Linked DNA regions of Homo sapiens: all the other regions are linked to region 3. Evidence: fine-mapped expression QTL. A gene starts in region 3. Each other region holds a variant in brackets. All regions are shown on one strand. Distances are between the middles of the regions.

The links.
Region 1: its variant is fine-mapped to the expression of PLXDC1 in neural progenitor cells (Aygun 2021, PIP 0.90).
Region 2: its variant is fine-mapped to the expression of PLXDC1 in whole blood (TwinsUK, PIP 0.95).

The regions. Positions count from the first base shown.
Region 1 is chr17:39,054,430-39,058,602 of GRCh38, forward strand. It overlaps the pseudogene RDM1P5. Among named protein-coding and RNA genes, the nearest start is that of LINC02079, 29 kb to the left of the region's middle. RefSeq lists a silencer at 2,432-2,671. The variant C/A (reference allele first, on the strand shown) is at 2,635.
Region 2 is chr17:39,086,659-39,090,831 of GRCh38, forward strand. It overlaps PLXDC1 (plexin domain containing 1), which reads right to left. Exons shown (of 14, transcript NM_020405.5): 8 at 949-1,044. It also overlaps the pseudogene RDM1P5. Among named protein-coding and RNA genes, the nearest start is that of LINC02079, 62 kb to the left of the region's middle. RefSeq lists an enhancer at 649-1,149. The variant GAAA/G (reference allele first, on the strand shown) is at 2,285.
Region 3 is chr17:39,149,921-39,154,093 of GRCh38, forward strand. It overlaps PLXDC1 (plexin domain containing 1), which reads right to left and starts at 1,717. Exons shown (of 14, transcript NM_020405.5): 1 at 1,442-1,717. The coding sequence starts at 1,517. TRC-GCA2-3 (tRNA-Cys (anticodon GCA) 2-3) reads right to left here and starts at 3,885; the gene lies at 3,814-3,885. RefSeq lists enhancers at 3,221-3,370, 3,743-4,173.

The sequences.
Region 1 (4,173 bases), 95 kb before region 3:
AAGACTAACAAATTAGCCACAAGATTAGATATTATAGCTCAGGAATTATGTAACCAGAGGCCACAAGATTTCAAACCTACCCAATTGCTCCTATAGATAACATTGTTGTAGGCTGGGCACAGTGGCTCATGCCTGTAATTCCAGCACTTTGGGAGGAGGGGGGTGGATCACTTAAGGTCAGGAGTTCAAGACCAGCCTTGCCAACATGGTGAAACCCTGTCTCTACTAAAAATACAAAAATTAGCCGGGTGTGGTGGCAGGCACCTGTTACCCCACCTACTTAGGAGGCTGACGGGGGAGAATCGCTTGAACCCAGGAGACGGAGGTTGCAGTGAGCCAAGATTGCGCCACTGCCTGGGCAACAGAGGGAGACTGTCTAAAAACAAAACAAAACAAAACAAAAAAAACCCCATAACATTGTTATAGTCTCAGCAATGCACCAAGATTTAACAGTCGCTCCTTGTCTGAGATAATGCGCCCCAGAGTTCTTTGTCCTACCTCCAAGACAATTAAGGAGAGCAGACACAAAGGTGAGGTTAGAGTGAAAGTTTAATAAGCGAAAGAAGAAAGCTCTCTGCCAGCAGAAAGGGAGTCCCACACGGGTGCCCCTATGAGGCTGATGTCCAGGGTTTTTAAAGACTGGGAAGGGGAAGGAATGTGGTTAGTTGCCCCAGGACCACTCAGGAGCTGAAATGATGATTCCTAGATGCTGCTTAGCTTGGCCCAGGACCAATCACGAGCTGAAATGATGATTCCTAGATGCTGCTTAGCTTGGCCCAGGACCTATCAGGAGCTGAAGTGAAAGCTTGGCCCCGGACCTATCAAGGGCTGAAGTGATAATTCACAGAGGCCAAACTTATAGTCCAAAAAGGAAAGTAGAGTGTCCACTGGAACCCACTGGAGCCCACTGTAGCCACGCCCACAAAAGGAGAAGAAACTTTGTCCTGGGAGGCCGCTGACTATACAAAGGACAAAGACATTTCTATGCCAGGTCTTGTTCCTTTATGTGAGTGAGATGGAAGTTTGTTGAAGTTTTTATCCAAATGGACCTGAGGTTTTTCTATCTGTGCAGCCGTGGGCATGTCTCCAGGCACAACACCCTGTGCCTGTTCCCTTATGGGTGCCTGCAGCTTGAATGTTTTCCCAGGCTGCTTTTTCTGTTGTGTGGGGATGAGGCACTGACCTGTGGGCCGGGAGCTCTCTGGGGACCCTTCCCTTGTTATCTACCTAAGGCAAGCTAACTAACTCCTTTCAATATTACTATTGTAAAACCTAAGGGCCGGGCGCGGTGGCTCATGCCTGTAATCCCAGCACTTTGGGAGGCCGAGGCGGGTGGATCACAAGTTCAGGAGATCGAGACCATCCTGGCTAACACAGAGAAACCCCGTCTCTACTAAAAATACAAAAATTAGCCGGGCGTGGTGGTGTGTGCCTGTAGTCCCAGCTGCTGGGGAGGCTGAGGCAGGAGAATGGCTGAACCCGGGAGGCGGAGCTTGCAGTGAGCCAAGATTGCGCCACTGCACTCCAGCCTGGGCAACAGAGCAACACTCCGTCTCAAAAAAAAAAAAAAAAAAAACCTAAGATTGGCGTTCTAGGTATTTTTCAGACCCTGTATTCTGATGGACCAGCTGGGACCACTCAGATTGGCAAACTGGCTCATCTGGTCTTGTGGCCCCCAACCAGGAATTCACTCAGCACAAGAACACAAGTTTTGACACCCTATGATTTCATCCTTGACCCAACCAATCAGCATTTCCCACTCCCTAGCCCCCAGCCTGCCAAACTATCCTTAAAAAACCCTAGCTTCCAAATTTTCAGGGAGGCTGATTTGAGTAATAATAAAACTCCAGTCTTCTATTTAGCTAGTTCTGTGCTTATTAAACTCTTTCTCTATTTCAATAATGCTGTCTCAGTAAATCGGCTTTTCTGGGCAGTGGGTACAATGAACCCATCAGGTGATTACACTGCTCTACCACGTAGCTGATTATGACACCTACCCCTCTCAGACACTATCAGCTCCAATTTGGACCTATTCTTTGAATTTTTTTTTTTTTTTCAAAATTGATCTCTACTTCTCATTCAAACCTCCCATCTCCCACATCATCTGACCTCCACAAGTTCACGTACACAATTCCCCAGAATCACGTAGGACAACTAGGAAATTCTTTTTAAGGATTTCATGCTAGACTGTTAATAGCTTAGTGAGTTATACTTTTATTTGAATATGTTAAACTCCTTAAAAAAAAACCTCTTAAGTCAAAAGATTGCATCTTTCATGGTTATTTCCCACAAGCTCAGTAGGTAGTGCTAATACTTAGTACCCTAATCTCCAGCAGGAGTGAAGATGAAACTGGCTGCTATAAATATGTCCCTACCCTTTCATGCTGTCAGGCCATTTTGGGACTGTACCCTAAACATGCACTTGAATGGAAGTTCTAAACTCAGGGATCGTGGCGGTGTGGCTGGAGGACAGGAACAGGCTCAGAGGCCGGCCCCAGGTAGGAGGGGCGAGGGAGCGATCCGGGCGCCGCCCCTCCCCTCGCCTGCGCCTCTTTTTTTAAAAAAAGCGTGGGCGTGCCTTGCGCAGGCGCAGTACTGCGCGAGCCTTAGCCGCGCAGGCTCAGCGAAGGGAGG[C/A]TGGCGGATCTGCTACCTTTTGCGGTTCCCACCAAGAGTGACAAAACCTTGCTAGTGTGGGAGCTGAGCTCTGGACCCACGGCCGACGCTTTGCATGTGAGCCTGGGCCAGGGTGGAGGGAGGGATGGAGAAAGCCGCCCACCTGCTAACTGGGAGTTCCAGAGTCCTGCTTCAGCACCTCACCTGCCTCAGCCTCTGCTGAAGGACTCTTTTTTTTTTTTTTTTTTTTTTTTGAGACACACTGTTGCTCTGTTGCCCAGGCTGTAGTGCAGTGGCGCGATCTCTGCCCACTGCAGCATCCGCCTCCCGGGTTCAAGCGATTCTCCTGACTCGGCCTCCGGAGTAGCTGGGATTACAGGTGCCCGCCACCACACCTGGCTAATTTTGTATTTTAGTAGAGGCGGGGGTTTCACCTTGTTGGCCAGGCTGGTCTCGAACTCCTGACCTCAGGTGATCCGCCCGCCGTGGCTTCCCAAAGTGCTGGGATTACAGGCGTGAGCCACCGCGCCTGGCCCGCTGAAGGACTCTTAATTCTAGAGGGGACCCCAGCAGACAGCTACCCCAAACAGATTTTTAGAGTCCCGGAGAGGTACCTCTCCAGTCAGCACATTTTACCTTCTAGGACTTCTTCAAGTTTAGGATCTTAAGAAGAAAACTTGTTGGTTAAGTGGGAAGTGTTTTGAATTGCATCCTTCTCGAAGAAGCGTTTGGGGAATATGAAGGCATGGGCGGTTTTGTTTTCTGGGCGTGAGATTTCATGCGCTTATTTGGCGTAGGACCACCCCCACAGCTTTCACTGTTCACAGCATTTTCCCAGTTTGACCTTTTGTATTCAGTCCGGGTCTTCCCAAATGCTGCAGTGGCCCATTCTGGTTTCTATGGCGTCATTAAGTTTTATTCAGCAATGGCTGTCCACGGAGCCCAAAAGGCATGCCACCGGAAGCAGCTTTTTCAGACATCTCCTGTCAAGGTGGCTCCAAATATGGAATTCCTAGCTCCGCTGAAATGAAGTGCTGAATTCAATAATAGATTAGCATTTGTCCAGCACTCTGGTTTACAGAATATTTTCAGATGCATTGCCACACTAATCTTCCAGTTCTCTGGTTTTTTTAGATTAAGAAACTCAAACTCAGGGTGGTTAATTGACTTGCTTAAGGTTCCTGACAAGAATTATGGAAGCTTAAGGTTGAACTCAAACCTACTGATGCTAAACCCCATGTCATTTTATGCTGTCCCTTTTTAAGAAATCTCAGCTTGGGCAACATAGTGAGACCCCATCTCTACAGAAAAAATTTAAAGATCAGGCTGGGCACGGTGGCTCATGCCTGTAATCCCAGCAGTTTGGGAGACTGAGTCGGACGGGTCACTTGAGACCAGGAGTTCGAGAGCAGCCTTGGCAATATGGCAAAACTCTATCTGTACTAAAAATACAAAAACATACAGTTCCCTATTGCGCTGTGCCTCAGTGGCCTCCTGTGTAGGGTAGAGGTAGCAACAGCACCCACCCCATAGATGACGATACAAGTAAATCTCCTAAAA
Region 2 (4,173 bases), 63 kb before region 3:
CAAAACCAGCCTGGCCGACAGAGTGAAACCCTATTTCTATTAAAAATACAAAAATTAGCCGGGCATGGTGGCGGGTGCCTGTAATCCCAGCTACTTGGGAGGCTGAGGCAGGAGAATCACGTGAACCTGGGAGATAGAGATTGCAGTGAGCCGAGATCACACCACTGCACTCTAGCCTGGGCAACAGAGTGAGACTGTCTCAAAAAAAAAAAAAAAAAAAAAGAAGAAGAAAAAGAAGAAATGCCACTGAGGCAGGGAGAAGGCCATGGCTTCAGCAGGAAGCTGGGGGCACCACAAGATGGGAGAGGAAATGAAGACCTTCATAAAACAACAAGAAGGAAGATGCTGTACTCCTTCCCGCAGTCTCAGCTGTCCCAGCCCCATCCCGAAGAGCATCCACCGCGGATCCTGTGGGCTCCACAACAGCAGGTGGCTGCCTTCAGCATGGGTGAGTGGGGTGCAGAGGGCCAGGGTCCCATGGTTTATGGAGGCCACCTGCTAAGTCCCTCCATTGCCTCCTGCCTGTGGACCGCAGCATCACCTCCTCTAAGGAGAATACAGTGACAAACTGAGGCCCGTCTAGTTCCTGGATCACCTTTTCTGGGGGCTCAGTCTAGGCGTTCTCAGAGGTACAGCTTTCCCGGGTTTCAATTATGTGGGAATAACAATAGCTGTCCTAGATCAAGCCCTAACCCCCACCCCAAACCCAGAATGGACCCATCAATGTCAGAGCTGCGGCCGATGTGCTCAACTCCACCTAGGTGGTTCTCACCCTTACCCTATCTCTGGGAGGGAGGTGGCATCAGGCTCGGGTTACAAAAGAGAGATGGAGGGCCCCGAAAAGTTAGGTGGCTGCACAAAACAGGAGTCAGTCATGGGCCTGGGACATGAAGCCAGTCTGCTTGACTCCAGAGCTCTTTCTGGGATGGCGGAATGACCCCTACTCACTCGGCAATGGGGTGAACTCCACGGCCGACATGCTGGTGACCTTGCTGGGGTCCAGCTCTATGCGGTGATATTCAAAGATGCTCCTTCGCCGAGATTCTGAAACAGAGGCAGAGCCTGTTGTCAGGAGCATATCACAGGCAGAGGGCATCGAGGCCTCTTCCCGGACAGTCTGACAGGTCAGCCTGCTGCACTGAAGGCAGTAAGTGCACCCAGCAGCCTGGGACAATGATGTTGGCGCTGCTGGAGACAGGGACAGGTGCGGACCTGGAGAGGAGAGTGTTGTGGTGTGAGGCTAAGTGACTCAACGCAGAGACCTGGCTGCTCTTGGGGGCAGGACAAATGGGATCCCATGCTTGCTTCTCCTTGCCTCTGCGCCTTCACAACTGCTATTCCCCTGACCCAAGATGTTCTTCCACCCCTTCTTCCTGTCTAGCTCATCCTTGCAGATCTAGCTCAAGGGCCACTTCCCCTGAGCAGCCCTCCTTGGCCAGCTCCCTCCTCTGCCTGGCTCAGGCCAGGTGCCCCCCTCCCACTGCACTCACCACACTGTGGACATGAGGGTCTATTTGGAGGCTGGGGATGTGTGAGACCATGATCATCTGGTCCTGAACCTCGCTGAGTGCTCTGTGAATGTCTGCAGATGGACAGGCTGACTTTTGCATGTTGCTGTCCACCATCCACCTCACCCCTCCTGGACAAATCCCCCAGCAAGGCTCAGGGCTTGCAGCCAGGCTCGAGTCCTACTTTGGTCCCTGCAGAAACTTCTCACAGGACCTCAGAGTCAGGAGATCCAAGTTCGTTCTAGTTCTGCTCACGACTTGCTGGATAACCTCAGGCAAGTCATTTGGACCTCAGTTTCTTGTCTGTGGAGTGGAAAGACAGAAACACCTACCACAACACCCTTGGGAGGAAAAAGCTGGAACTGTACATGAAAGGCTTCTTTTTTAAAATGACAATCTGAGGTGCTCTGATACTTCTCTCTAGGCCACGATACCCACCCAGGAACCATGACTTGGGGTTGGTTTTCTTCAATTTTGAAAGGCAGGCAGCCCAGCCAGGCATGGTGGCTCATGCCTGTAATCCCAGCACTTTGGGAGGCCGAGGCAGGTGGATCACTTGAGGTCAGGAGTTCGAGACCAGCCTGGCCAACAGGGTTTTTAGTAGAAACCCTGTCTCTACTAAAAATACAAAAATTAGCTGGGTGTGGTGGTACACGCCTGTAATCCCAGCTACTTGAGAGGCTGAGGCAGGAGAATCGCTTGAACCTGGGAGGCAGAGGTTGCAGTCAGCTGAGATTGTGCCACTGCACTCCAGCCTGGGTGACAAGAGCAAGACT[GAAA/G]AAAAAAAAAAAAAAAAAAGAGAGAGAGAGAAAAAGAAAGAAAGAAAGAAAGAGAAAAAGAATAGAAAGAAAAGAAAGAACGGAAAGAAAGAAAAGAAAGAAAAAAGAATAAGAAGCAGACAGCCAGGAATTGAGCTTTGAGAATGAGTTACCCCACAAGAGGAAAGAACCACTCAGTGTTTGGTCCGCCCAACACCCTTTCGTCTTCTGGAAACAGCAGCATTCCCCTTGGGGTACTGTGCCTGGCCCATTCCTACAGGTGGGCTGAACCACAGCTGCCATCTTCTTCCATGATCCTGCCTCTCTGGCCACGCTGTGATTGTTCCAGGCCTGGGTATCGGCTGTGAGCTGGACCAATCAGAGACCTCCCCTGGGACTTTTCAACTGTAACCAAGAGGCCTTTTGCTGTCTGGTAATGAAGCTGAGAAGATGCAGGCTCAGAACCTGTGAATGGCCACAGTACCGGGCTCATGGGGAAAGGCAGAGAATGAAGCCACCTCATGGAGAGAAACAGGAAGTGCTGGTATGTTCTGGGCCCTGGGGTTCCAGGACCTGCCCCACTATTCAGCTCTTCTTTTGGTTCTTTGGGCTACTTCAGTATCCTCCGTGCACCCCCCTTTTCCATTTAAGCGAGTTTGAATTGGGTTTTCGTCACTAGAAGTAGGTGGGGACATACGTTTCTCGCTCGGCTGAAGGTGGTTTGGAGGAAAATTTCCCAAGGTGGCAGAAGAGCTGAGTAGGGGCATCCACAAAGGGGTGGGCGTCCCGTGCCACTGCTGGGTGCCCCACCCCCACATCCCCTCCTATGTAAGGAACCTAGAGGAGCTTTGTCCATGGTTCACATAGTATCTCATTATTTATTTACTTATTGAGACTGAGTCTCGCTCTGTCACCCAGGCTGGAGTGCAGTGGGATGATCTCGGCTCACTGCAACCTCTGCCTCCCAGGTTCAAGCAATTCTCCTGCCTCAGCCTCCCGAGTAGCTGGGATTACAGGTGCCCACCACCACACCTGGCTAATATTTTGTATTTTTGGTAGAGAGGGGGTTTCACCATATTGGCCAGGCTGGTCCCAAACTCCTGACCTCAGGTGATATGCCTGCCTGAGACCCCCAAAATGCTGGGATTACAGGTGTGAGCCACCATGCCTGGCCTGTATCTCATTATTTATTTATCCTTAACGTTGGAATTAGTCCCTCCTACTTAACCCAGGACTGCGCCCCCGTGGGTCTGGCACCAAAGCATGCTCTCTTCCCAACACAATGCCCTGCTGCAGGACACTTCAGCCCCTGAAACATTCAAGACCTTGGAATGTCATTCCATGCAGTGAAAAGAAGACTACTCTGGCATTGGTGTCAATAAAGATTCCCTGGAGCTGAGCAGCATCTACATCCCTGAGGCCTGTCTGAAATGCTGGTGCCCCCCACTCCCATGCCACTAGGAGGGTGCACCTGCTACCCACAGGCCAGATGCTGCTCCAGGCCGAGTGGAAAGGGGAAAGCAGATGGGGGCACTGATGAGAGCATGGAGGAAAAGAAGCTCGGCCCCCGGAGGGTGACCACACAAGGAGAGGAGGCTTAGGGTTGCCGCAGCTGGGCAGACAGGCTCTGCCCTTACCGCCTGTGTGACCTTGGACAAGGGACTCAGTGAGCCGCATCCACACATGGGGCTGGTGATGCCATGCAAATGGTGTTGTCCTGAGAATTAAGGGAGACACTCAACGCACAAGGACCCCAGGAGCCCTCGAAGCATGTGAGCCCCTTTTCTCTCTGCCCCGACTGCTTTTTTGCTGTTCTTCTCATGGCTGAGACTCTAGGGCATTTTCAGCCTCTTCTAACCCCTCAAAGTCCACCTTAAGCAATGTTTATAAACTTGAACATGAGGAGG
Region 3 (4,173 bases):
CCTTGATTTTTTTAAAGTATCAGTTACCCATAAAGACCCTAACAAATATGAAAAGGAAAGGCAATTATAAAAGATCCTTCATTATTCCACGCACAAGAGTCAAAGATTTTGCCAACAGCCTCACTTTATAAATGCAAAAATAGGTCCAGAGAGAGAAAGTAACTTGTCTAAAGTCACACAGCAAGTGAGATGGCGGGACTAGAAGCCACGTCTCTGGCCACCCTCTGTGTGGTCTCCCTGAAAATTGGTGGTTCTCACCAGCAGCTTCTCGGTTCGTCAGCTCCACTGCCCTCTGCCCATACTTCCCACTGTCAGCCTCCTTCCCCTCCCACCCCCAACATACTCTTCTTCTCAATAGGGACCCAGGTCTGTCTCAGCTACATGCTGGGACCATTAAAGTCAAGAACATTGCCACTGACACTGTGCCTGGTGCCAGCACACTCCTGAGACACAGCAGGTCAACCACAGCACTCACCTCAACAGCGCCTCCCTCACCCCACCTGAGGGGCACCCATGCCAATGATGCACAGGTATCTATCTTCTTAATCATCTCTGCTGAGGGGCCAGGCTGCAAATTACCCATCTCCCCAACCCCAGAGAAAGTCTAGGTGCTTAGGGGAGAACAGAGACTATGAAAATTATACCATGAGGGATTCCAGGTAGATCTCAGAAAGGACTTCCAGGTGGGAGAGATGAGTTTGGAGAACTGGTAGGGGGGAAGAGGAGTGTGCAGAATGGGACGCCTCCCTCCACCCCCTACCCCAGTGCCCCATCTAGAGCCAGAGTAGCTGAAAGCCAAAGGCTGCCAGGGCAAATGGGAGCAGGTGTGAGGAGGGGGACTCTTGAGGCTGGGGGTGCAGAAGCAGCAAGTTGCTTCTTCCTGGGCCCACTGCCTCTCTACTGACACCAAATAGGCAAGGGAAGGTGACCGAATGGCTGCTGCCTTCCCAGGCAGAGACGCTGTGTCCCCACCATCCCCCTGGCTGCTCCCACCTATCCCTAGCCTGGATCAGCTTTGGGGTCGGGGGTGTGGCAGAGAAGAGGAAAAGAAGGCATGGCTGGGGCAGGGGCCTCCCCAGGCTCCCATCTCATCAGAATTCAGCCTTGCCTGGGGTGATCAGGGGTCCTGATGACTCTCCCGCTGTCCCCTTTCAGAGCCCATGGCCACATAGAGCCCCCTCTCCTAAGGTCCCTCCAGTATCCTTCCAGGAGAGAAGGAGAGGTCCGGGCATCGGTGTCTCCACCGTCACTCACACACCCTATGTGTTTGGGAAAGTGGGGTCCCTATCCACCTGCCCACAGCCCACAGCTCTCCTGGCCTCCTGCGGACAATGCCCCCCTCGCGGACATCGCCAGGCCGTCCACACCTGCCCATGCCCACACCTGACTGCCCGTCCCTCCCCGCCCCCGGCCCACCCGGGCCGGCTCCCGCCAGTCCTACCTGCTCCGGGCTGGGGGCTCAGCGCCCGGGCAGCCTCCCTGAGCACCAGCACCAGGAGCCAGAGCTCGCCTCGCATGGTGGGTGCCCGGACCTGCCCCCGGCCTGCTTGCTGCCCCGGTCCTGACGAGGGAGGGGGCCCTGGCTCAGGCTGCGGCCGCGCGGTCCCCGGGGCTGGCGGAGGGGCGGGCGGCGAGGAGACGGCGGAGCGCGGGGCCGGGCGAGCCGGCAGGAGCGGCGAGAGCGCGAGCGGAGCTGGAGGCTGCGGCCTCCGGGAGCAGGCGGGGAGCTGGGGGGGCCGCTGGGTCGGTGGGGGTGGGGGGGAGCTGGGGCAGGGGGCGGGGCGGGGGGCGCGGCGTCGTTGGGGGCTCTCCCGGCGCCTGCCCTCAGCCCTAACGGAGCGCTCCCCTAGAGCTCTGCAGCCGCTCCCAAGGCAAGGGGTGCAGAGTAGGGGACAGGGCGGGAGCCCCTCGGGCTGAGAGAACCCCTAGAAGCATCAGCCGCCCCGCGCTCCTCACTGAGCTCCTGGCTCCCTTTCCCTCCTCCGTTCCGCCGGGAAAGCTGCAGAGAGAAGGCCCGAGGACTGGACCCCTGGAAGGGACAGGCGCCCCATCCCTGGGTCACGGGCCCCTGACTGTTCCCCGCCCCCAGCTCCTCCAAGCTCTGCGACTTCCTGAGCTGTTCTTCGGAATTCTGTGCGTCTCTGATGCTTTGTCCTCCAGCCCCCACCCCCAGAAATCTCCCCCTGCAGCAAAGACCCCCAGCTTTTCTCCCCAAGAGGGGCCTGAATCCCACCCCCCTTCCATGACTCCACCTTATCCCTCCACCCCCCATTTCCAGCACCGATTTGCCCCCCAAGCCTAGCAGACGTGAGGGTGGAGGGGGCCTGGCTACCCCTTACTCTGCAACAGTCTGGACCCCTCCCCACGAGTAGGTAACCCAGGCCTCCTGCCTCTCTGGGGCCTCCAGGCCTACTCAGGGCCAGACCCAATCAATCTTCAGAGCCAGCCCCAGACGAGGAAATGGCTCACCCCACCTGTCACCACCTTCTGACAGGCTCTGGGGATAGATAATCTTTTTATTTTTTCTTCCAGGACAGAATAAAAATACCCGCAATGTAGGATATTTAATAGACGGCAAGGAATCAGGTCAGGACACGAAGATGCCTCTTCCCTCCCCTGACCTACTTCGTTCTTGTGACGGCAAGGAGCTGGGGCGCTGGAGAGTGGGAGACGGGGTGAGGGGGCATCCTGGCTTCTAGTGGGCTGGGGCCTAGGGACTAGAAAACCGCGGAGAGGAAGGGTGCGAACGCTGAGCGCCATTGGAGAAATTTTCCAGGAGGAGGGATATGGGCGGGGACAGGAGAAGGTACACTGTGGGCTGGAAGAGACGGATTCCGTGGCACTGAGGTTAAAAAAAAAAAAAAGAAAAGAAAAGAAAAAAAAACACCTAAGAAAGGAAACAACTAAAGGCTCTCTAATCTCTTAGAACGCCGGTTCCTCCTTCCGCCGGGCCCAGAGTCCCAGAGACTACCTCCTCCAGCCCTAAACCCAATGTCCCCTTACCGTGGAACAAGGCAAGGCCGGTCTGTAAATTCTTCTTGATGTCTAATTTAAATCCCAACTTGGCGGACTCTCAAACAGAATCAGATAGGCAGCTACCTCCAGCTGCAGCTACTTGCTGCCCTCAAGTGGCCACGTGACGAGCCACAACCCTCTTGTCCTGCGGGTTTCCTCTTTCCCCAGCCTGCCCACCCCCTGTCTCCGACCTCCTGCCTTCCTCGAGGTCAAGGTGAGAAGTCTCGGGACGGATTCCAGCTCCAGCCCCGGCGTCTTTGCACATTCCTCCATCTGGGGTACCTCGTGGTCTGTCTTACAAGAAGAGCTCAGGCTGAAACATAAACTTGTAAATAGTAGAAGCAAATGTGTAAATTTTAACGTAAGCCTCTAGAACTTGAGATCGTAATCACCTGCAGGGTGTGTGTGTGTGTGTGTGTGTGTGTGTGTGTGTGTGTGTGTGTGTATTTTGTTTGTTTTTTGAGACAGGTTCTCGCACGTTGCCTAGGCTGGAGTGCAGTGCTGCGATCATAGCTCACTGCAGCTTCCAACTCCTGGACTCAAGCGATGGGGAGCGTATATGAAAACACAGATTTCTGGACTCCACCCTCAAGTTTCTAATTCATTAGGTCTGGGATGAGGCCCGAGCGTACCCAGGTAATGCTGCTGGTCCCAGGACCACATTTTGAGAGCCACTGCTGTTGAATCCCCAGTTCCTTTCAGTCCCTCACTGCTCCTCGTCTGCCAGTAGGAGTAAAAGCAAACAGCTTAGGAAAAATCGACACCCAGGACAAAAACAGTATCTCGAAAAGGCCAAAGAGGGGGCACCCGGATTTGAACCGGGGACCTCTTGATCTGCAGTCAAATGCTCTACCACTGAGCTATACCCCCTCTGCCGGCAAACCGACCGCACGTAGTCGTTTAGTGGTATTGCTGCGCAGGCGCTGTGTGGCGTTCCCGAAGGGAAGTGGAAGTGGGGTAAGACGTTTACAAGAGATGGAAAAAATACAACTCCCAGAAGAATTACTCACTTGGAAGCAGGGGTTGTTCCCTGAAGCTCTGAGCTGAAGATCCCCACTGGCAGTATAAGAAAATATATTCCTGGGGTGTGGAAGGAGAAGTCTCTCGAAATATTTCACTTCGGGGGCGTCCCACTCTCCTGCCCTGCAGAAGACCCCT